Linked DNA regions of Homo sapiens. The protein of the gene in region 3 binds, or shares a complex with, the protein of the main gene of each other region. Each region holds a gene or a part of one and is shown on either strand. Other genes may lie near its edges. A codon is read from its position in the direction of its gene.

Evidence for each region. Proteins that work in one complex are often made in the same cells at the same time.
Region 1: the proteins of TIMM10 (region 3) and TIMM10B are in contact, whole or in part, in a cryo-EM structure (PDB 7CGP), measured with the Homo sapiens proteins. Residues at the interface, in NP_036588.1 of Homo sapiens: Ala6 (codon at 2,221), Leu9 (codon at 2,212), Leu13 (codon at 2,200), Glu16 (codon at 2,191), Met17 (codon at 2,188), Asp20 (codon at 2,179), Met21 (codon at 2,176), Arg24 (codon at 2,167), Ala28 (codon at 955), Lys32 (codon at 943), Cys50 (codon at 889), Asp52 (codon at 883), Arg53 (codon at 880), Cys54 (codon at 877), Ser56 (codon at 871), Lys57 (codon at 868), Tyr58 (codon at 865), Asp60 (codon at 859), Ile61 (codon at 856), His62 (codon at 853), Glu63 (codon at 850), Arg64 (codon at 847), Met65 (codon at 844), Gly66 (codon at 841), Lys68 (codon at 835), Leu69 (codon at 832), Leu72 (codon at 823), Asp76 (codon at 811); in NP_036324.1 of Homo sapiens: Gln7 (codon at 2,980), Leu11 (codon at 2,968), Leu14 (codon at 2,758), Arg15 (codon at 2,755), Phe17 (codon at 2,749), Leu18 (codon at 2,746), Leu19 (codon at 2,743), Tyr21 (codon at 2,737), Asn22 (codon at 2,734), Arg23 (codon at 2,731), Met24 (codon at 2,728), Thr25 (codon at 2,725), Glu26 (codon at 2,722), Cys28 (codon at 2,716), Phe29 (codon at 2,713), Val33 (codon at 2,701), Pro34 (codon at 2,698), Ser35 (codon at 2,695), Leu36 (codon at 2,692), His37 (codon at 2,689), His38 (codon at 2,686), Arg39 (codon at 2,683), Leu41 (codon at 2,677), Glu46 (codon at 2,470), Leu49 (codon at 2,461), His50 (codon at 2,458), Ala53 (codon at 2,449), Gly54 (codon at 2,446), Ile57 (codon at 2,437), His61 (codon at 2,425).
Region 2: the proteins of TIMM10 (region 3) and TIMM9 are in contact, whole or in part, in a crystal structure (PDB 2BSK), measured with the Homo sapiens proteins. Residues at the interface, in NP_036588.1 of Homo sapiens: Glu16 (codon at 2,191), Met17 (codon at 2,188), Asp20 (codon at 2,179), Met21 (codon at 2,176), Arg24 (codon at 2,167), Ala28 (codon at 955), Cys29 (codon at 952), Lys32 (codon at 943), Cys50 (codon at 889), Arg53 (codon at 880), Cys54 (codon at 877), Ser56 (codon at 871), Lys57 (codon at 868), Tyr58 (codon at 865), Asp60 (codon at 859), Ile61 (codon at 856), His62 (codon at 853), Arg64 (codon at 847), Met65 (codon at 844), Gly66 (codon at 841), Lys68 (codon at 835), Leu69 (codon at 832), Leu72 (codon at 823); in NP_001291414.1 of Homo sapiens: Lys15, Leu18, Gly19, Tyr21, Asn22, Lys23, Thr25, Glu26, Cys28, Phe29, Leu30, Val33, Asp35, Phe36, Thr37, Thr38, Arg39, Glu40, Val41, Glu45, Thr46, Glu50, Leu53, Leu57.

The regions. Positions count from the first base shown.
Region 1 is NC_000011.10:6,477,470-6,484,514, reverse strand, and holds the start of TIMM10B (mitochondrial import inner membrane translocase subunit Tim10 B), read right to left. Parts: upstream 3,015-7,045; 5' UTR 2,999-3,014; coding exon 2,960-2,998; intron 2,759-2,959; coding exon 2,663-2,758; intron 2,471-2,662; coding exon 2,294-2,470; 3' UTR 1-2,293. Other genes in the region: ARFIP2 (arfaptin-2), read left to right, coding at 4,094-4,192, 4,447-4,543, 5,158-5,375, 5,556-5,777, 6,317-6,474, 6,623-6,797. UniProt on the Homo sapiens protein: Component of the TIM22 complex, a complex that mediates the import and insertion of multi-pass transmembrane proteins into the mitochondrial inner membrane.
Region 2 is NC_000014.9:58,424,518-58,431,496, forward strand, and holds the start of TIMM9 (mitochondrial import inner membrane translocase subunit Tim9), read right to left. Parts: upstream 3,015-6,979; 5' UTR 2,875-3,014; intron 2,726-2,874; 5' UTR 2,537-2,725; intron 1-2,536. Other genes in the region: KIAA0586 (protein TALPID3), read left to right, coding at 3,112-3,120, 3,721-3,946, 4,846-4,916, 6,131-6,200. UniProt on the Homo sapiens protein: Mitochondrial intermembrane chaperone that participates in the import and insertion of multi-pass transmembrane proteins into the mitochondrial inner membrane.
Region 3 is NC_000011.10:57,527,954-57,535,529, forward strand, and holds TIMM10 (mitochondrial import inner membrane translocase subunit Tim10), read right to left. Parts: upstream 2,802-7,576; 5' UTR 2,705-2,801; intron 2,341-2,704; exon of another isoform or gene 2,282-2,340; 5' UTR 2,237-2,281; coding exon 2,166-2,236; intron 966-2,165; coding exon 764-965; 3' UTR 511-763; downstream 1-510.

The DNA of each region.
Region 1 (7,045 bases), about 51 Mb from region 3:
TGTGGGTAAGGTCCTAGTCAGCAACTTTTACCTTCCTAACAAACTTTTCTGTTCAAGAGATAGCAGCTAAAGGGGGCAAAAAACATGATTGGAACCACTTTTCTCAATAAGAAACTTTGTATAGGCCGGCCGTGGTGGCTCACACCTGTAATCCCAGCACTTTTGGAGGCCGAGGCGGGCGGATCACAAGGTCAGGAGTTCAAGACCAGCCTGACCAATACAGTGAAACCCCGTCTCTACTTAAAATACAAAAACAAAATTAGCTGGGCGTGGTGGCGCATGCCTGTAATCCCAGCTACTCGAGAGGCTGAGGCAGGAGAACTGCTTGAACCCGGGTGGCGGAGGTTGCAGTGAGCCTAGATCGCTCCACTGCACTCCAGCCTGGGTGACAGAGCGAGACTCTGTCTCAAAAAAAAAAAAAAGAAGCTGTGTATAAATGTTTGCACGAAATCTGCAGAATGTGCCTTCTGGCACATTCTGGATTCTTGCTTCCTCATCTGTTAAGTGAGGTTAATACCTCTTACTTATAGTTGTTGTAAAGATTAATATAAAGCATGACATCTACCAAAATCAGAACCTACACAAAGTGTGTGCTCAATAAATACTATCTTAAGAGGCAGCCTGCTGTGTAAAATGAACATGGACTTTAAAGTCAGATCTGCACTTTAATACCGGGTCTGCTACTTGAGAATTTCAATTTTCTGCTCTGTAGATAGGATAGAACATCTGCTTTGTAGGTAGTTGTAAGAAGTTTTAAAATTATTACTGTGGAAACCAATGTCTAAGAGCTTCAATTTCTCTAAAAAAGGAAACAGGGTCACCTGATGAGGGTGGGGTATGGGATTAAGGACAGCAGTAGAGGTGTAAAATAACTGCCATGGTAATTAGAGAAGGAAATGGACCAGGAACCCATAAAGGTGTGTGTTGGTGTGACTGCGTGTTGGTGTGAGGACTTGGCTGAGGTTGGAGGCCTTGAATATTTAGTGGCATTCATTACACAACTGTTTTTCTCTAGCAGTTTGAATGAAGGAATGGAAAAGACAGAATAAGTGGAATGATACAAAAAGATGGCCAATGGTGGCAAGAAAATGGGGTGATGGAATGATATGCTATCCAGGCTGCTGAATACAGAAGTAAATTACACAAAGTTGGGGGGCGGGGGAGGCAATAATGAGAAAAGAATGGAGAGGCTGGAATTAGAAATCACAGAATGTACTCAATGGGACCAATGTGGGGCAGATGATAGAAAGCTGGATTTAGGAGTTTCTAGACGAGCAGTGAAACATTAACGTAGCATTAAAGAAGTCCCGAAGATTTAGTTTTATCCCTTTTTATCATAACCATTGCCATCTACTTCTCCCTTCAGTTTCTCTTCCTCGGATTTGGCTGCATTGCAGAATATGGTCCCCAGCTCTCTCCCTTCCTGATTGCCCGTGAAGACAACCACACAGACCTTTGTTCAAAGGTTTTACTGCTCATCCTGAGAAGACTGTACATACTAAGAAAGTAACAACCTGGGGAAATGGCTGAAGTTCCAAAAGACTCCAGACTTCTTACAGGTTTCATCTCTCTTCTGTGGCCACTAACTTCCCAAGGAGGCAGTGCCCAAAAGCCCTGTGGTTTTTTGATCCGTTGTACTTCGATAGCTCCTCCTTTCCCTAGATCCAGCAGAACTCTAGACATGTAAGACATAGTTCACAAAACAACAGTTATGAACCAACAAATACTTGGCTCACGGTTATGAGCCACTGAAGTCAGTCAGACTTAAGGACAACTAGACAGAGCTCCCATTTTCTGTCATCTGGGCAGGAACCAATCTCCTGTTGTATAAAATGACCTTCTGGTACTTTCTGGAATCTTGCTTCCTCATCTGTTAAGTGAGGCTAATACCGCTTACTCATAGTTTTGTTGTGAAGATGAACTAAGAGCATGACATATTACCCGTTTTAAAATTGTACACACAGACCCTGCTTTAACCAGATGCCTGCAAATGCTCAGGTTTTCCTTCTACATATAGAAAACAATTTCTCAGCTGCCAGGGCTGAAGCCAGCAGATATGCACTAAACGACAGAACAACGGATTGTGCCAATAAAGTAGGCAAAGCTTCCTTGCCCAGAATATAAATCAAACTGAGTAAAAACTGGGTATATTGGCTCCAGGAAAAGGAGCAAGGACACCCAGCTTTCAGGCAACCTCGAATTCTCTCTGTTTAGGATTCACCAACCCCAAGGTCCACCGGGTCCTTCAATCTGAGGGTCCATCCAAGGCCTTCCTTCCTGGGGTTGGGTATGGCTAGCTGCCTGATGGAGAGACCCCAGGCTGTTCAGCAGCAACGCCTGGCACAGCCGAGGCAGCCTCGTAGTCTGCGATGCGGCGCTGTACCAGGGCAGGCATGAGCTGCACGTAAGCGGCCATGAGGCGGTGGTTGGAATGGATCAGCTTCCCAGCACAGCTGTGCAGACAGGCCTCCTAGAAGGAAGATAGGGTTTAAGTGGAGGATAAAGGTGCCCTGTCGGGTCCGCCTCCTTTCTTCCCCATGCCCAGCCTAGGGGTGAGGGTCGTGGGAAGGCCAGGGCCAGAGGTACGGGAAGTGGGGTGAGGAGGGAAGCAGTCTACCGCTAAACTCTTCTTGCAGCGTAACCTCCCTACACAGTTCCCCACCTCCTCAGCGTCCAGAGCTCGGTGGTGCAAGCTGGGCACACAGCGCTGGAAGCAGAGTTCTGTCATCCGATTGTAGACCAACAGGAAGTCACGCAGCTGAGAGAAAAGGGGGACCACAAACTCAGCGATAAGGGCCCCACACTTCTAGTCAAGGTCGCGCCGCCCAAAGTTTCCCAGGCCCGCGCGCCATAGCCCGAAGTTTCCAGCCCTCAAATCCCTGGCCCTGTGGGGTTCCCGCGATGTGTGCAGGAATGCGAGCTGAACGTCTGGCCTCGAAACGACTTAGTTCTCACTTACGTTTCGCAGTTGCTGTTGCTGCTGCTGCTGCCGCTCCATCACGCCACCGGCGCATGCCGTACGCCACTTCCGTTTCAGCTTCTCGGTGCCGCCCCGGAAGTAACCTCTCGCTGATCTCGAGAGCTAGCTCGAGTATCGCCCTGCCCTGGCTGCGACGTCAGCTCCGCCCTTATAATCTGCGACGTGGCCGGCTTCTTCTGCCCGGAGAGGACGTCATTTCCGCCGAGTCCCTGACCTGCTGCTAGGATCGCGACGGGAACTGGAGCCCGAGGTCCCCGCGCGGCCCGGGCCTGGCGCCCTGAGGGGAAGAGCGGCCCGGCCCGAGGTGAGAGGAACATGCTTGGGCGACGGGAAGTTGAACGCACAAACCTGTCCAGAGGGCAAGATGCCCCGAGCCCCGGGGAAGGATGAGGACACACCTGATGTCCAGGTGTATGGGGGTGGGGGCGGGGACTCACACACCTGGGAGACATAACTGACTGTGGAAGGGTCACCGATATCCTGGGAGAGAGAGGCTTTTACCAGAGACTGGGAACATACACCCACTGATCTAACTAAGGCCTGGTGGGGAGGGCCCGAGGAAGACGAGGTGTATGAGACGGAGGAGGGGAGACCCCCTGAAGGAAGGGGGAAGAAACGCTAAAGGAATGTGAAAGGCCAAGCAATGGAGAACAAACCTGAATAGGGGGGTGAAGACCTGAGCCCTGGAAAGGGTTCATCTCCTCAGCATAAACACGCCTGCATGGAGATAAGTTCTAAGAGAGCAGACTTTCCCTCTTCACTGTTGTATTTTCATTGTCACAAATAGTGCCTGACACATAGTAGGCACTCACTAAATGTCTGCTGAATGAGTGTAGAAATAATCACCAGAGTCCTGGTGAGGTTGGGGGCTTGTGAGAAGACACCGTGCTTTGGTGTGCCTGTTTCAAATGTGCGTTTTGGAGGGGAGAAATACATATATCTGAAGAAAGGAATGATGGCCAAACGCTGGGACACTCAAACCCTGGGACAGCCTTTAAAGAAATGACAGAGGAGGCCTCCTTCTTCTAGAGTGCTGGCCAGTGTCCAGAACTTCTGTGTTGGGCTTTGCAGGGTGCTGGGGTGGAGAGTTTTACTCCAATACCTTTCCTAGCCATGACGGACGGGATCCTAGGGAAGGCAGCCACAATGGAGATCCCTATCCACGGGAACGGCGAAGCCAGGCAGCTTCCTGAAGATGATGGGCTGGAGCAGGTGCTTCTGTTTGATTCTTCTAATTGTTTCAATTTAGGAATCCAATTTATAAATCCTAGGTTCTCACCCTCCATTCCAGTAGCCTTCCCCTGACTTATCTGACTCCCTTCATTCTTTTTACGTATCATTTTGATTCTGTGCAGACTTCCCTTGTGTACTATCTTTATGATGCTTGAATCCAAACTTGTTCCCACCTCCAAAATGCTTCTGCAGCCCCTATGTTCCTGAAGCAACCCCTCTTCTCTGGCCTATAGGACCTCCAGCAGGTGATGGTGTCAGGACCCAACCTCAATGAAACCAGCATTGTGTCTGGTGGCTATGGGGGCTCTGGTGATGGACTCATCCCCACAGGTATGAATGTTCAGAAACAGGAATCTTGGGTGGAGGAGGGGACAGGAATGGTTTGGGGAAGCATAGGATATGTCTAGGAAAGCTTGAATTATGTCTGGAGATCTTGGGAACTTCTGCTTGTAGGAACCTCATGGACTCTCCTCAGCCCAAAAGCAACTCCCAGCGTTGTCCATCCATTTCCCTTTTGCCACTTAGCCCCTGAAATGGCTCATTTGTCCTTTCCCTGCCACCACCTGAGTCAAGTTAAGACCTGCTTCACAGGAATGCCCCCCCTCTACAGCTTGAGGCTGAGTTGGAACTTTGTGAAGCTTCTCAGAATTTTTAGATTCTAAAGTTTAGAGGAACAAACAGCCCTGAATCTCACACTAAGATTCCACATGGGAATGCAACCAGGTTTCTTGTTATCATGACCCACCATCCTTGACTCCTGCTGCCCCCAAACTCAGTGTATTTTCTTCTGTTTCCTCTGCCCCTGTACACCAACAACTCCCTGCAAACCCCTCCTCTAACCCCCAAGGAGGCCATATGTATATCAGGATTTGGTTCTCACCGCGCAAAGTCCGAGTTCCTCCTAGTAAGCAGGAGCATCCAGTTGTCTCTAGCATCTCCTTCAGGGAAGTCAATTTCATGTGCTCGAAGAGAAGTATGGGTGGGGCCACAGAGGTGTCTGGTGTATCTGAGAGAGGCTGGTGTCAGAGAACTTGATCCTTTAGGGTCTGGCCGCCATCCATCTCACAGCACCACTCCTTCTGGCCCTGGAGATGAGGTGGCTCGGGGCATTGCTGGAGAAAAGTTTGACATCGTCAAGAAATGGGGCATCAACACCTATAAGGTAGGATTTAAGCACCTCTCCCTTCCCCAAAACTCCTTATGGGTACCTTTTTCCCTTTTCTTCGTGATCGTAATATCCCATCTGTGGCTGAGAGTAGGAGCCTGGGGGGTGCTGGGGTAGATACCTGTTGTGTGGGGAGGCTGTTAGGGTCTCTGATTTATTCCCCCATTTCCCAATCAGTGCACAAAGCAACTGTTATCAGAACGATTTGGTCGAGGCTCACGGACTGTGGACCTGGAGCTAGAGCTGCAGATTGAGTTGCTGCGTGAGACGAAGCGCAAGTATGAGAGTGTCCTGCAGCTGGGCCGGGCACTGACAGCCCACCTCTACAGCCTGCTGCAGACCCAGCATGCACTGGGTGATGCCTTTGCTGACCTCAGCCAGAAGTCCCCAGAGCTTCAGGTGCCTCACCCAGACCAAAGAGGGTGGGGGAACTGGGCATGGGCCCTCCCAGGCAGTCATTCCTCATCCTCCCTCCCTCCTGCAGCCCACAGGGAGAACCCCTTCAGGGTGGGCCCAGCCCTACCCCCAGCAGCACTCACCTGTGGAGGCAGCCTAAGGGTTTGTACAGAGGTCCAGAAGTTGGAGGGGGTGGGGGAGGGGGCACACTAGGTGCCTCACAAATAACCCCTCTCTGCACTGGGGAGAATGCCTTCGTGCTCAGCCTAATCAGAGCCCCTCCCCTGCTTGCCACACTAGCTCTCAGACTGTTCCAGTCTTGTGAACTTACCCAAGAATGCCCACCACCCACATTCCTACCCCAGGTATCCCCAGGGTGATCCCACTAACTTTCCGGCTAAGAGAGCCTTGCTGGAGGCAGTCCTTGGTTGTTCCAGTTTTGCTGGCTGTGTCCTCCCCGGGGAGGAGGGGAATGAAGGGCTCTACAGCTTCAGTCAGGTAGGGAGTGTTATTCAAGGTCTGTTCCTCCCTTCTGCCCTCAGGAGGAATTTGGCTACAATGCAGAGACACAGAAACTACTATGCAAGAATGGGGAAACGCTGCTAGGAGCCGTGAACTTCTTTGTCTCTAGCATCAACACATTGGTCACCAAGACCATGGAAGACACGCTCATGACTGTGAAACAGTATGAGGCTGCCAGGTGTGGGCACTGGCAGGGCTTAGGGTTTGGGGAGTTGGCTGGTATGGGTGGAAATTTGGGCATTAGGGGCATAAGAATTCAGGAAGGAAAGGAGAGTATGTGTTGAGGATAAAGGAGTGGAGACCAGCCTTTATCACCCCCTCCCCAGGCTGGAATATGATGCCTACCGAACAGACTTAGAGGAGCTGAGTCTAGGCCCCCGGGATGCAGGGACACGTGGTCGACTTGAGAGTGCCCAGGCCACTTTCCAGGCCCATCGGGACAAGTATGAGAAGCTGCGGGGAGATGTGGCCATCAAGCTCAAGTTCCTGGAAGAAAACAAGGTGCCAACCCCACCCCCTTGACCCTAGCCCACCTTTCCATCTGTAACACTAACCTTCCCCTCAGACCCTCCCCATTATTGAATGAGGAAATGCAGCCTAGCTGGGGAGTAGAGTGTTCACCCCCTCAACCCCTGGGCCTTTCCAGATCACCCTCCCTCCAATTCCTGGCCCTTTCCTGTTGGAGGATTTGGCTGCTGGTCCCAGGAACATAACTGGGAAAAATCACCCCCTGAGCTGGGGTACAAAAA
Region 2 (6,979 bases), on a different chromosome or scaffold from region 3:
TAAGCTATTATGACACATATCATCTATCTAAAAATATTTTCCAAATAGCCAAATATATGTTATAAGCTAAGTGACTGACCAGGTGCAGTGGCTCAATCCCAGCATTTTGGGAGGCTGAGGTGGGTGGATAGCTTGAGCCCAAAAGTTCTACATCAGCCTGGGCAACATGGCAAAACCCCATCTCTACAAAAAATACAAAAATGAGCCGGCATGGTGGTGTGCACCTGTAGTCCCAGCTACTCAGGAGGCTGAGGCAGGAGGATCACTTGAGCCCAGGAGCTTGAGGCTGCAGTGAGCCATGATCACGCCACTGCTCTCTTGCCTGGGTGACAGAAAGAGACCCTGTCTCAAAGAAAAAACGTATAAGCTAAGTCATAAAACCTAGCATCACAAACATGGGTGCCAACATTAGGTATTTCTTGGTGGGATGCAGTAAGACAGCATCACCTATGTGGTATTCTGGCCAAAGTTTGATATGGCTCTAATCATGAGGGAATAATTAGGAAAATCTACAACATGGAACAATTTGTAAGACAACCTGGCTGGTCTTTTCAAAAGTGTCAGTCATAAAGAAAAGGGGTTGAGAGGGCTGATTTAGAGTGAGAAAATAAGGCCAGGCATGATGGTTCACGCCTGTAATCCCAGCACTTTGGGAGGCTGAGGTGGGCAGATCACGTGCGGTCAGGAGTTCCAGACCAGCCTGGCCAACATGGTGAAACCCCATCTTTACTAAAAACACAAAAATTATCTGGGCAGAGTGGCGGGTGCCTATAATCCCAGCTATTTGGGAGGCTGAGGCAGAAGAATCACTTGAACCCAGGAGGCAGAGGTTGCAGTGAGCTGAGAAAATAAGCCTGGGCAATAAGGCGAGACCTAGTTTCTACAAAAAAGTAAAAAATTAGCCAGCGTGGTGGCAAGTGCTTGTAGTCCTAGCTACTCAGGAGGCTGAGACAGGAGGATTGCCTGAGCTCAGGAGTTGAAGGCTTCAGGGAGCTATGATCATGACAGAGCAAGGCCCTGTCTCTGGAAAAAAAAAAAAAAAGAGGGAAAGGAACTAAAGAGTAATGACAAAGAGCTGTAAGATCCAAATTAAGTTGTCATTTTAATAATTCAGAGTGCCTACACTCAGATCTTAGGTCACTGTTTCTTTCACATAAGTTTCACCTAGAAGGTAAGAGTTAAACTATCTCCAAGGTCTCTGGCGACTCTGACATTGTAGTTCTTTCAGTACACTCATAATATACAATAAATTGTGAACAAACAAGTACCACCTATGAGCCCAATTACGAAGAGAAAATGTAACTAAAATAAAAAATAATGGCCACGTGCGGTGGCTCACGCTTGTAATACTAGCACTTTGGTAGGCCGAGGCGGGTGAATCAAGTCAGGAGTTCGAGACCAACCTGGCCAACATGGTGAAACCCCGTCTCTAATAAAAATACAAAAAAAATTAGCTGGGCGTGGTGGCGGGCGCCTGTAATCCAGCTACTCAGGAGGCCTGAGGCAGAAGAATCGCTTGAACCTGGGAGGCGGAGGTTGCAGTGAGCCAAGATCGCGCCACTGCACTCCAGCCTGTGCCACAGAGTGAGACTTTGTCTCAAAAAACAACACAAAACTCATTAGAGAAACTCAGCAAGTTACAAAAAAATAATAATTAAAAGGGTCTTTAACGCTGAGCCCTTAAAGTCTTTTTTTTTCTTTTTTTTTTAAGACAGTCTTGATCTGTCACTCAGGCTGGAGCACAATGGCGCGATCTCAGCTCACTGCAACCTCCACCTGCCGGGTTCAAGCAATTCTCTTGCCTCAGCCTCCTGAGTAGCTGGGACTACAGGCGCGCGCCACCATGCCCAGTTAATTTTTTGTATTTTCAGTAGAGGCGGGGTTTCACCTTGCTGGCCAGGCTGGTCTCGAACTCCTGATCTCGTGATCCGCCCGCCTTGGCCTCCCAAAGTGCTGGGATTACAGGCGTGAGCCACCGCGCTCAGACTTTAAAGTCCATTTTAAGTCTAGACTTCTATGAAGGTAGACTGCCGAGATGTAAAAGAAATAAAATTAGTTATTTAGCTTTTAGATCGGATTACATTTTCTGCTTTGATTATTCTAAAGCCTCCAGTAAGGCGTAAAGGGAAAGCTCTAAGTAGCGCATCCTGGGAAATGAGCAGATCAGGGAAGGGGTGTTAGACCTGGTATTATGTCTAAAGACGATTTTCATTTAAAGGAGGATCTTCCCCCGGGCAGCTCAAGGTCACATCGTAAATACCTTATAGTCTAATTCAGTGTCCCAAAACAGGACCCCGACTCCCCAGATCCGGGTTGGGGGTGGCTCAGGGCCTAAAGTTCCTACCCTCGCCCAGGTGACACCATCTCCAGGAAGGTCTGCACCCGACCCGGCGAAGCGCTGTCCCGCTTCGCACCCCCCACTGCTCCAGGTACGTGCGGCGGCCTCCTCGGGAGACCCCGCCACTTTCCTGGAGCGTAGCCTGCCACCCCCCGTCCGGGAACCCCGGATTCTCACGGCAGAGAACAGACACCATACTTAAGCACAGGCTCTCGCATCCGACATCAGTACAAGGCTGGGGGTTGTTGGGGGACGGTTGAGCCTTGGGAGGGAGGGTCAGGGTCTGGACAGGAGCCGCGGCCGCCAGATGGGAAAGAACACGTGGGAGCAGTAATGTCAAGTGACACTTAAACCCTTAGACGCCGATTCGTTATAACGCGAGGAAATCTAGAAGAAAAAGCAGGTACCATCAGCGAATTCTAAAATCTCCTAAGGATTAACTTCGGTTATTTTCTGCTTAGACAACGCTTTCTATTCCCGACTTCCTCTCCAATAATGACCCGAATCTGTCGAAACTTCTTGGAAGCCTAATTTACCTAATCCCACGTCCCTAACGGTCTTCGGAAGCGAAGCAGTGTCAACAGTCCCTGGTAAACACAAGTAGTATTACAAGTCGGGAGCTCTTCAAGTCTTGGATGAGACTGTAGAGCGGTCTTGTGCGGCAATGTGCTACCTTAAAATAAATAAATAAATAAACCCCTGTTATGTCCGGAGTTTGTTTCCACCCGGAGAGGAATGGAAGAGCACCAGAGAGCGCTTAGCTTTCTGGTTGGATGTTTTGGGTGAGTTTCTTGGCGCGCATGCGTGTTGTGTCTCAAGGGCGGGTTTGAAGGGAAGTGGGTGTTGACCTGCGGGCAACTGACGCTGTTGTCAGATTACACCCACGACGGTGCGGGTCTCGGGCGTTCTGGAGATACGTAGGGGTGAATTTATGTTTCCGACGATTGCATCTGGAGGGGTGTGTAAGACTCTGTGGCTGAAGAAAGCTATTACGCTTCTTATGTGGGTCATTATTTTAAAAATAGCATTTCGCTTTTATTTGCTTGACTGCCTCTTCTCAACAAATTTTAAGCCCGCCACTACATGTGTTTGGTTTTGCCCTACCAGCTCTGGGGTTGGGGAGTGCACTGTTATGGTTATTGTTGCTCCTGTGGCCATTCTCTTGTCATCCCCACTTTCACATTTTGGCGTGGTGTATTAATAGACTGAGTGGGATTAATGGGTAAATATGACTTTATAGTCAGCTCTAATCCTGGATTCAATATCAGAATTTAGATTTTCAGCTTTGTGGATGTTCGACATTTTAAAAACAGTTATTGCAAAGAGGTGAAAATTTTGTTCTGAAGTCTTAAGGAAACAGAGAAAGTTTTTCCGTCCTTAAGTGTGGGACTTGTTTTGTGACCAACAATATGAAAGGCTCTGAGGTCAGCTTGGAGAAGAAAAAAAAGATTAAGATGCCAGTGAAGAGACTTCGTGAGGTAGTTTCTCAAAATCATGGAGATCATTTGGTTTTGCTGAAAGATGAGTTGCCCTGTGTTCCTCCGGCATTGTCTGCAAATAAACGTCTTCCTGTTGGAACGGGGACTAGTTTGAATGGAACATCACGTGGTATGTGATTCCATGTAGTTTTTCAACCAGTTTTAGTTTAGTAAATCTTTAGTCCTTATTTGTTTAAATTCCCAAACGTAAGATATAAGTCTAGTTTGTACAGATGTTTGAAAACTGACCCTGTTTCCCGGGAAAATGGCCAGGAAGCCTATAAAATGTTTGAATAGATGGAATGAATGAAACTTTAACGTCCCCTGTTGTGCTTTTTTTTTTTTTTTTTGCATTGACTTTTGCATATTTTTTTTTTTATATTTATGGTGGATACACTTAACTTGTATAATGTGCTTTATTTTCCCCCACGTAGTGTTTTTTATAGTTTTCCCCCAAAGTAGTGCTTTTTACCTAATTCACTACTTTCTTTTCATAGTGGGAAAAGCAGGACTTCTGCCAATTGATGGCTTCTATATTCCAATTCACTTAATCTGTCTAGAGCTCAGTGAAAATAAGGATAACATATGCTTTACCCACTTCGCTGCTAATTGTGAGGATTAAATTAATGAATATGTGAGCAAAAACAGCAAAACGCTTTTGTAATGCTGTTCTTTGGGGGATACAGCGGTGACACTCAAATAGTACTGCTGTTAAATTAGACCTTTACATCGTATACATATTTCTACCCATAGTTTGTCCACATCCAATAGTGTATGGTTATATTTTAAAATGTTTCGTGCTTAATCTCACTTTATTGTCAGTACCGAACCTTATTTTCCCAAATATCAACTGTAAAAACTTTCATTCAGATATGTTTAAATACATTTTCTTAACTTTTTTTGCATGCAAATTGTCTTTCCAACTTCTGCGTTATATGGAGTTTATAGATCTTGAATCATGCATATACAGTTTCTAAAGCTAAGGATCTGATTTTAAAATCACTAAAATCTATTCCTTTGTTTTGTTAGGTTCATCAGACTTAACTTCTGCTAGAAATTGTTACCAGCCTCTATTAGAAAATCCCATGGTGTCAGAAAGTGTAAGCAAAAGGATTCTTAATTATGCTCACGTTAAAATTTTCAGTATTGTCAAATAATGCATTCTTAAATTATGTTTGATTAGCAGCATGCCTTGTTTTTATTTAAATATCACTTACCAAAACAAATGTTTTATATACTACAATTGTGACTTTGAATGGTGTTTGAGACATTAAACAAAAGGCCTTCCCTAGAATCAAAAATACCTATTAGTAAGATAATGGCCGCTGAAAGAGATAGGATAACTGAAAAGAAACTCTCTTACTATTCAGGGAAAAGGTGTTCTTGCCCAGAGACTTAACATGTTCTTAGGTAAAAGAAAAGGAACAACTAACAGTACAATTTTTCTTTAATGTGAGGTGTGCTTGCATGTCATTCTAACACTTGTGAGAATGGTTTTGGTTTTCTTAGAAGGGAGGTTCTTTAAGAATAACATGAAATTATCATCTTAACTTTATAATGCCGAAAGTATTTGATAAATACAATGTTTTGGTTATGAGATCTAATCAGACTTTGACGGCTAATCATAGTGTTGACCTATGTATTGTCAGTTTAATAAGTCTGTATAATGAGAGTTTCACAATATGCTATTTTGAAAATTGAAGCTGGCAAACTAATAATTCAATTGAGACTATATGACAATTTTGTCAAAAGCTCACAATAAAATGTATAATTATTTGCTGTACTTGATCCCTAAGTAAATGCCTAGACTTTGGAGTGTTTTTTTGTTGTTTTGTCTTTTTTTTTTTTAAGCAGGCCTTATTTAATGATATCTAAACTTCTCAAATGTATGGATACACTGTTATTGTATAATTGAGAATAAATGGGTGATCTTCGTGATGTTGTGCCATCCTTATCTACTCCATTTGACTCACAGTGAGTCAGATTTTCACATTTCACTGAAGCAACTGAGATGTTAAATGACTTGCTCTGCTACAAGTGGCAAACTGGTTTGAGTCTGAATCTCAGTGCTACATTTGCTTGCTGGTTCATTTACTCATTCATTCACTTGTCTGATAGTGTATTACTCACCCATTCAACAAATCTTTGAGTAGCTTTAAGGTACATCAGAATTGCATGATGATGGAAATGAAGAATATGAAATACACAGTCCTGCCCTCCCAGAACACAGTAGTCACATAGCTAGTAAACGGTTCTTGATAAATAATAAATCATGAAGTTTATTTAGCCTATTTCTTCCTTTCATATCCCAAAGGATTTTTCTAAAGACGTTGCAGTGCAAGTGTTGCCTTTGGATAAAATAGAAGAGAACAACAAGCAAAAAGGTAAAAGAATAATATTGATTTTTTTAAATTGTGACAACATATACATAACATAAAGTTTACTACTTTAAAATGTACAGTTCTGTGACAGTAAGTACATTCACATTGTTGTACAATCATCATCACCTTTCATATCCAGAGCTTTGTCATCTCTCCCAACTCTACCCATTAAACACTAACTGCTCATTTTTCATCCCCTCAGCCCTGGGCATCCTACTTTTTGTCTCTATGAATTTGACTACCCTAGGTACGTTATATAAGTAGAATCATATAGTATTTGACCTTTTGTGACTGGCTTATTTCACTTAGCATAATGTTTTAAAGGTTCATCCATGTTGTAGTATGTGTCAGAATTTTCTTCTTAAGGGTAGAATTTATTTTTAAACATTTATTACGTAGTCTTATAGTTTTTATTATTTTCATTTTAAATTAGTTTTTCTTCCCAAATTAAGCTATCACTAGAAGCTATAAAATCCAGAATAAGGTTTGCAATGGTGAAGGTTATCTTGTTATTACCAACCTATTGCAGAGGTTTAGTATTAGATATGTTTATAAATTTTTTTTTTGAGACGGAGTCTCCCTCTGTTGTCCAGGCTGGGGTGCAGTGGCGTAATCTCAGCTCACTGCAACCTCCAGCTCCCGGGTTCAAGCAATTGTCCTGCCTCAGCCTCCTGAGTAGCTGGGATTACAGGTGCACACCACCACACCCAGCTAATTTTTCTATTTTTTTTTTGTAGAGACAGGGTTTCACCATCTTGACCAGACTGGTCTCAAACTCCTGA
Region 3 (7,576 bases):
GTAAAACAGGATTAGTCAGGGGGCTAACCCTATTTTACAGATGCGGAAGCTAAAGCACACAAAAGTGACAGGTGCAGGGCCACACAAAAAGCAGCAGACAGCAGGCAAACCTAAGCTGTCTTACTTTTTTTTGAGATGGAGTCTCACTCTGTTGCCCAGGCTGGAGGACAGTGGCACAATCTCAGCTCATGCAACCTCCGCCTCCTGGGTTCAAGCGATTCTCCTGCCTCAGCCTCCTGAGTAGCTGGGATTACAGGCACCCGCCACTACACCCAGCTAATTTTTGTATTTTTAGTAGAGACGGGGTTTTGCCATGTTGGCCAGGCTGGTCTTGAACTCCTGACCTCAAGTGATCCACCCACCTCAGCCTCCCAAAGTGCTGAGATTACAGGCATGAGCCACCTTGCCCGGCCTGTCTTACTCTTAAACACTCATTAATCTCCCTCTGCTGGTAGGGGCTGTGTCTGTTTTCTTTACTCTCAAATGCCAAGCACACTGCTTTGCACATAGTAGGTGTCAACAAACTTGTTTATATATATATATATATATATATATATATATATACACATACATACACACACAGTCACATTCCAGTGTGACAAATACTCCTTCACCAGGAGACAGCGCTACCACTCCGGGATCTTGAAGACTCTCTACAGAGAGCCTAGGCCTGGCAGTCTTCACAGATGACACCCAACAGGGAGCACGTTTATTAAAGTGGGAAGGGGTGGGGTACACCCCAGGGTGTATACTGACAGGGACCTCATGCAGGCCCAGAGCTCTGCTGCACCCTCTTCATCAGCTCTTCATCCTGCATAGACAACTCTGTCAACTTTTTGCCCATCCGCTCATGGATGTCCAGGTACTTAGAGACACATCGGTCCAGGCACACAGACTCGCCCTTGGAGAGCTCTGCTTCCTTGTAGTGAGGAGGCACACACTTCCGGTGGCAGGCACTGGTCATTCTGGAGGGAGGGAGGGGCAAGGTCATGTCAGCAGCATCCTGTGACATCCCAGGAACCTTGACCATTCCAGCCCTGCTATATTGATTTCACCTCCCCCAAGAAAGCAGTGTAAATCCTCAGTTTACACCTCAACCACTGGAAGGTCCTTGCAAGTAGGAAACTTGTCTAAGTCCATGTATATGACTAACTAAGTAGAAACCATTTGTTGAGGACTGGCTACATGCCAGGCATCCTGCTAAGTGCTTTACCTGCATTCTGTTATGCAATGCTTACAATAACCCTAAGAGACATGTATCCCCATTTTACAGATGAGGAAATTAAGGCAAACAGAGGCTCAGTAATTTTCTAAGGATCACACAGAGCTGGGTTATGAAGCCAGGTCATCTGACCTCACAGTCTACACTTAAAAATCCTTCTAATTTATAGCCTTCAGGATAAACCAACCAATCAAGAGAGCTTAAGCCAATAAAAATAGCAGACATTTCACTAAGTGTTGGGCTTGAGGCTAAGGGCTTTCATATATTTTTAGATTTAATATTTATGATGTCCTATGAGGTAGGTATCATTATGTCTTCTTCATAATGAGGAAACCAATTGTCAAACAGTGCAAGTAACATGTCCAATTATACTGCTGGTGATTGGTGGAGCCAGGATTTGTTCCCAAATTTGCCAAATGGTTATGAGCACTAGTTGCAGAATCAGACTGAGGTGCTAGTTCTGGCATTGTTACTGACCAGCTGCCGACCCTAAGGAAGTTACTTAACCTCTAGAATCATCAATTTCCTCATTTTAAGACGGGACTAATAAAATTAACCCACTGGATTATTTTGAAGATTAACAAGTGCCTGACACAGAATAAAGGGTTTTAAAATGTTAACTACTAAATGGGCTGGCTATGTGCTATTTGTCAAGAGGCAAATACTCAGCTTTTCTTGGAACCTAACCAGAGCCTGGATTGGAGTTTCTCTTCCTGCTTGGCTCCTGCATTGCCAGTTCCATCCCCATCTAAATGCCCAACTCATTCTAGTGACCCTTTACTGCATCTACATTAGGATCAACCTTGAAGGTGGGTGTGGGGAGGGTAAGCATGGGCCTCAGGCTCCCCTACATTCAGGAAGGAATTTGTCATAAGTCATTCACCTTCGATAAGGGTGACCAAGACTTATTTTCCAAGACAGGGTAGCACATAGTTCTCTTTACCTGTTGTACATATCGGCCATCATCTCCACCTCCAGCTCCGCAGCCAGCTGTTGGGCCCTGAGAGGATCCATCTCAGCCTAGCACCGTGGAAGGGATCTCCTTCTGGCCTCCTAATCCTGGGAGCAGACATCACCATCAGCACCCACCGCCGCCGTTCACTCTCCTACCCCTGGGGCTAGAGGATACAGAGGACTCACAGGGCGCCAGACCACCACGGGCCACTAACCTCAGTGAGCTTAACCACCCCATTTCACGGATGTGGAAACTGAGGCCTAGCCCAAGGTCGCACAGGACGTCTATGGCGAGCCTGGAAATCGAGCCCCGGATCTCTGATGCCCCAGTTCCTGGAGGTCACCTCTATTCAGGAGATCGAGGACCGGAGGAGAACTCTCTAACCCACGAACCTGAACCTCCAGGGCCCTGGGAATGGGATCATACGCTGAACAGAGGCGACCGGGACCCAGCCCAAAGGCTACACCTCTGAAATGGCGACGCCATCATCAGGGCCACATTGAATTCAGAGGTCATGTGTCACTTACCACTGCCTGGGACGGATCACAATGCCCACGGAGACCCCAACTTCTGACAAATACTATAACGTTACCCGCCTCCCGAGAGGCTCCAGCGGAAGCACGTGGGTTACTTCCGGGAGGAAAGTCCCGCCTCTTCTTTGATTCAAACTCGCTTCCGGAATTAAATACCAACGAGACGGCGCCGGGAACTCGGCGATCATAGAGAGGGAGCGGCTGGCGCCGGGCGAAGAGGAAGGCGACTTGCCAGTGCTAGAGAGGACACCAAAGTACCATAGAAGCTTGGGCGGGGTGCAGAGCGTCTGCAGCCCGATCAGAATTCAAGTCCTTTGGGATGTCACCGAGCGGCTTCAGTTTATTGGTTCTGTAGGAAGAGGCGTGGCGACAGACACCTGTGAACCTCACCCCCGTTCCAGACAGCCGACTCCTGTGCGCAAATCAGGCGTGGAGAAGGAAGAACGCCCCCAAACAGCGGTTCTGTTTTTGTTTCGCGTTAAAATCACCTGGAACGTTTTTAAACATCCCAGTGCCCAGGACTCACCTCATTTCAATTAAATCAGAATCTCTGGGAGTACAGTTTAAAATTCCTCAGGCAGCAATACAATTTAAAATTCCCCAGGTGATTCGTATGTACAGCCAAATTTGAGAAGCAGTGCTCCACGGGACGTTGTGCGATTACTGCTGTGTGTAGGTCACACTAAGCCCCGTCTGGGGTTGCAAAGATAAGCGAGATAGGCTTCCTGTTCGCAGAAAGACAAGACGTGTAAAATATGTTTTCTTCAACAGTTAGAGGTCCTCAGCCACAAAGAGATAATAAAAGCAATTTCGGCTGCCACCAGGGCTAATCTTGGGTGAGGGAAAGAAGGGTACTGGTGAACTTTCCAACTTTCAAGACTTAATGTGTTCTTCAAACTGCACCATTCACTCATTCCCCACTAAAAAGAAGGAAACAAGGAAACAATACTCAGTCCCTTGATTTGTCACACAATTTCCTGGTAAAATAAATTTACAAGATGTAAATTAATGACGCAAGGGCACATTGCCCATTGGAAAAGGTGGGCTAGACATTTTCTGTGTGGTCATCATAAGCTTCCCTAATTGTCCAAGACCATCCTAATTTTAAACAATTGACCTTTCTACTGCTTTGAAGACTCATCTTTGCCAAACTTGTGCCCTGATTTTTAAAGATTGGGGTATAACATTCATAAAGTGCATAAAATACACGAATGTTAAGCTTAATTAAATATATATGTATCTATATATGTACATTTGTATAACCGCCATCCAGATCAAGATATAAAATACTTCCTGCACCCCAAAAAGTTATCTTGTGTTCCTTCCCCATCAATACCCCCTCTCGAAGTTAACCACTATTCTGACCTCTATCACCATCAATTAGTTTTCCTTGTTCTTGAACTTCGTGTAAATGGAATTATACATTATTTTCTATTTTGTGCCTGACTTCTTTAGCTCAATGTACCTGTAAGATTTCCTCCATATTGTTGTGTGCATCTGTTATTCCTTCTGTTTTATTGCTGTCTAGTGTTTGATTGTATGAGTATGCCACAATTCATCTATCCATTCTCCCGTTGGTGGATGTTTGGATTGTTTCCAGTTTTTGCCTATTATGCAATAATGCTGCTATGATACTCTTGTACAGATGGACATATCTTGCCTTGGTTTTTGCCTTTGAAAATATAGTCAACATTGGCCGGGTGCAGTGGCTCACGCCTGTAATCCCAGCACTTTGGGAGGCTGAGGTGGGTGGATCACCTGAGGTCAGGAGTTCGAGACCAGCCTGGCCAACTTGGTGAAACCCCATCTCTACTAAAAATACAAAAAAGTAGCCCGGTGTGGTGACGGGTGCTTGTAATCCCAGCTACTCAAGAGGCTAAGCAGGAGGCTAAGGCAGGAGAAACACTTGAACCCGGGAGGCAGAGGTTGCAGTGAGCCAAGATCGCACCATTGCACTCCAGCCTGGGCAACAAGAGTGAAACTCCGACCCCCCACTCCCCGCAAAAAAGAAACATTATGGAAAGTTAAGAAACTGCGTGGGAAAAGGAGATGGTTTCTTACAAGAGGAATCTTGCAATATCTACTGGGCCTTATGAAAGGTTGCATACTGTATGATTTCATTTAAGTAACATTCTCAAAATCACAAAATTATAGAGATGGAGAAGAGATTTCTGATTGTCTAGTGTTAGGGTTGATGGGGAGATAGAAGTGTACCTGTAAAGGGTAGCACAAGAGAGATCTTTGTGTTGATGGATAATTCTGTATCCTGATTGTGGTGGTGGTTACAAGAATCTACACAGGTGATAAGATGTCATAGAACTGGCAGGGTGCGGTGGCTCACGCCTGTAATCCCAGCACTGTGGGAGGCCCAGGCGAGCGAATCACAAGGTAGGAGTTCGAGACCAGCCTTGTTGGTGAAACTCCGTCTCTACTAAAAATACAAAAAATTAGCTGGGGGTAGTGGCGGGCACCTGTAACCCCAGCTACTCAGGAGCCTGAGGCAGGAGAATCGTTTGAACCCGGGAGGTGGAGGTTGCAGTGAGCCGAGATCGTGCCACTGCACTCCAGCCCAGGCGACAGAGTGAGACTCCGTCTCAAAAAAAAAAAAAAAGCCAGGCGCGGTGGCTCACACCTGTAATCCCAACACTTTGGGAGGCCGAGGCGGGTGGATCACGAGGTCAGGAGATCGAGACCATCCTGGTTAACATGGTGAAACCCCGTCTCTACTAAAATAAAAAAAATCAGCCGGGTGTGGTGGCATGCGCCTATAGTCCCAGCTACTCAGGAGGGCGAGACAGGAGAATCGCTTGAACCCGGGAGGCGGGAGGCAGAAGTTGCAGTGAGCCGAGATTGTGCCACTGCACTCCAGCTTGGGCGACAGAGCAAGACTCGGTCTAAAAAAAAAAAAGAAAGAAAAAAAAAGTCATAGAACTACTACACACACACATTGTACCAATATAAATTATCTGGCTTTGATATTGAATATAGTTATGTTAGATTTAACCTTTAGTGGAAGTTGGTAAAGGGCGTACAGGACCTCTCTGTACTATTAATGCAACTTCCTGTGAAACTATAATTATTTCTAAATAAAAAGTTTTAAAAATCTCTACAAAAAAGAAAACAAATAAGATTATACAAGTATGAGTAAGAGCTGGCCATAAAGAAAGAAAGAAAAATATTTATATAAAAGATTGTGTAAGTAAAGTACCTAGTCCATGGTAGATGCTCAATAAAAATAAATCATTGTTTTCATTCTTTTTCATTTTTAAACTTTCACTGGGGCAAATTTATTTTTATTTTTACTTAGGATTTTTGAGGCAGGATCTTGCCTTGTCACCCAGGCTTGAGTGCAATGGTATGATCAGTGCTCACTGCAATCGTGAACTCCTTGGCTTAAGCAATCCTCTTACCTCAGCCTCCTAAGTAGCTGGAACTAGAGGCATGAGCCACCATGCCTGGCTAATTTTTTTTTTTAAGAGATAGGGTCTCATCATGTTTCCCAGGCTGGTTTCAAACTCCTGGGCTCAAACAATCCTCCTGTCTTGGCCTCTCAAAGTGCTGGGATTACAGGCATGAGCCACCCCATGCCCAGATGGAATATTTAAAACATACAGAAAAGCAGAGAGAACAGGACATTGAGCTTCCATATATTCATCACCAGGACTTAGGAATTGTTAACATTTGTCCATATTTTCTTCATCTATTTTTATCTCTAACAGATAAAGCCCTTTTATTTATTTATTTTTTCCTTGAGACAGGGTCTCTGTCGCTCAGCCTGGAGTGCAGAGACCCAATCATAGCTCACTGTTAGCTTAAACTCCTGGGCTCAAGCAATCCTCCCATCTCAGCCTCCTGAATAGCTAGGACTACAGGCGCAAGCCACCATGCCTGAGTGGTTTTTAAAATTTTTTGTAGAGATAGGGTCTTGCTATGTTGTCCAGGCTGGTTTCAAACTCCTGGCCTCAAGCGATCCTCCTGCCTCAGCCTCCCAAAGCACTGGCATTACAGGCATGAGTCACTGCACTGGGCCCTGCTTAACAAAAAAAATTTTTTTAAACGGAGTCTCGCTCTGTCACCAGACTGGAGGATAGTGGCACGATCTCCGCTCACTACAGCCTCTGCCTCCCAGGTTCAAGGGATTCTCCTGACTCAGCCTCCCAAGTAGCTGGGACTACAGGCGCATGCCACCACACCCAGCTAATTTTTGTGTTTTTAGTAGAGATGGGGTTTCACCATGTTGGCCAGGATGGTCTCAGTCTCCTGACCTCATGATCCACCTGCCTTGGCCTCCCAAAGTGCTTTATACACCGCGCCCGGCCAACAAATTTTTAAGTGCACAAAATAGTATTGTTAACTATATGTACCATATTGTACACAGATTTCTAGAACTTATTCATCTTGCATAACTGAAATTGTATACCCATTGAACAGCAACTCTCCATCTCCCCAGCTGCTCAGCCTCTGGAAAACCATTGCTCTTATTGATGATGATGCTATTGTTATTATGATTATTTACTATGAGACTGTGTCTTTCCTCTATGTGGAGACCTACAGGTAGGAATCTCCAATGGTCCCAGTTGAATTGCTTCTTGTAGAAGACAGTTTAGATAGCCTCAGACTTTGAAGATATCCTTAGACTCCAGATATGTCATCCAAAGCTACTGATCTCTGTCAACACCATGCTGAAACTCTGGCTCCTCATTCTACCCTGCATTCTACCCCTTCCCAACCTTGCAAAGGTGAGTTGTATATTTGTCATTCATCGTGGGTCAGTATTGTCCTCTTGGGTGGGACCCCAGCCCCAGAAGAAGAGATGCAGAGTTTTCATCTAGAATCACTTCAAGTGGGCCCTGACCACTCATGAGA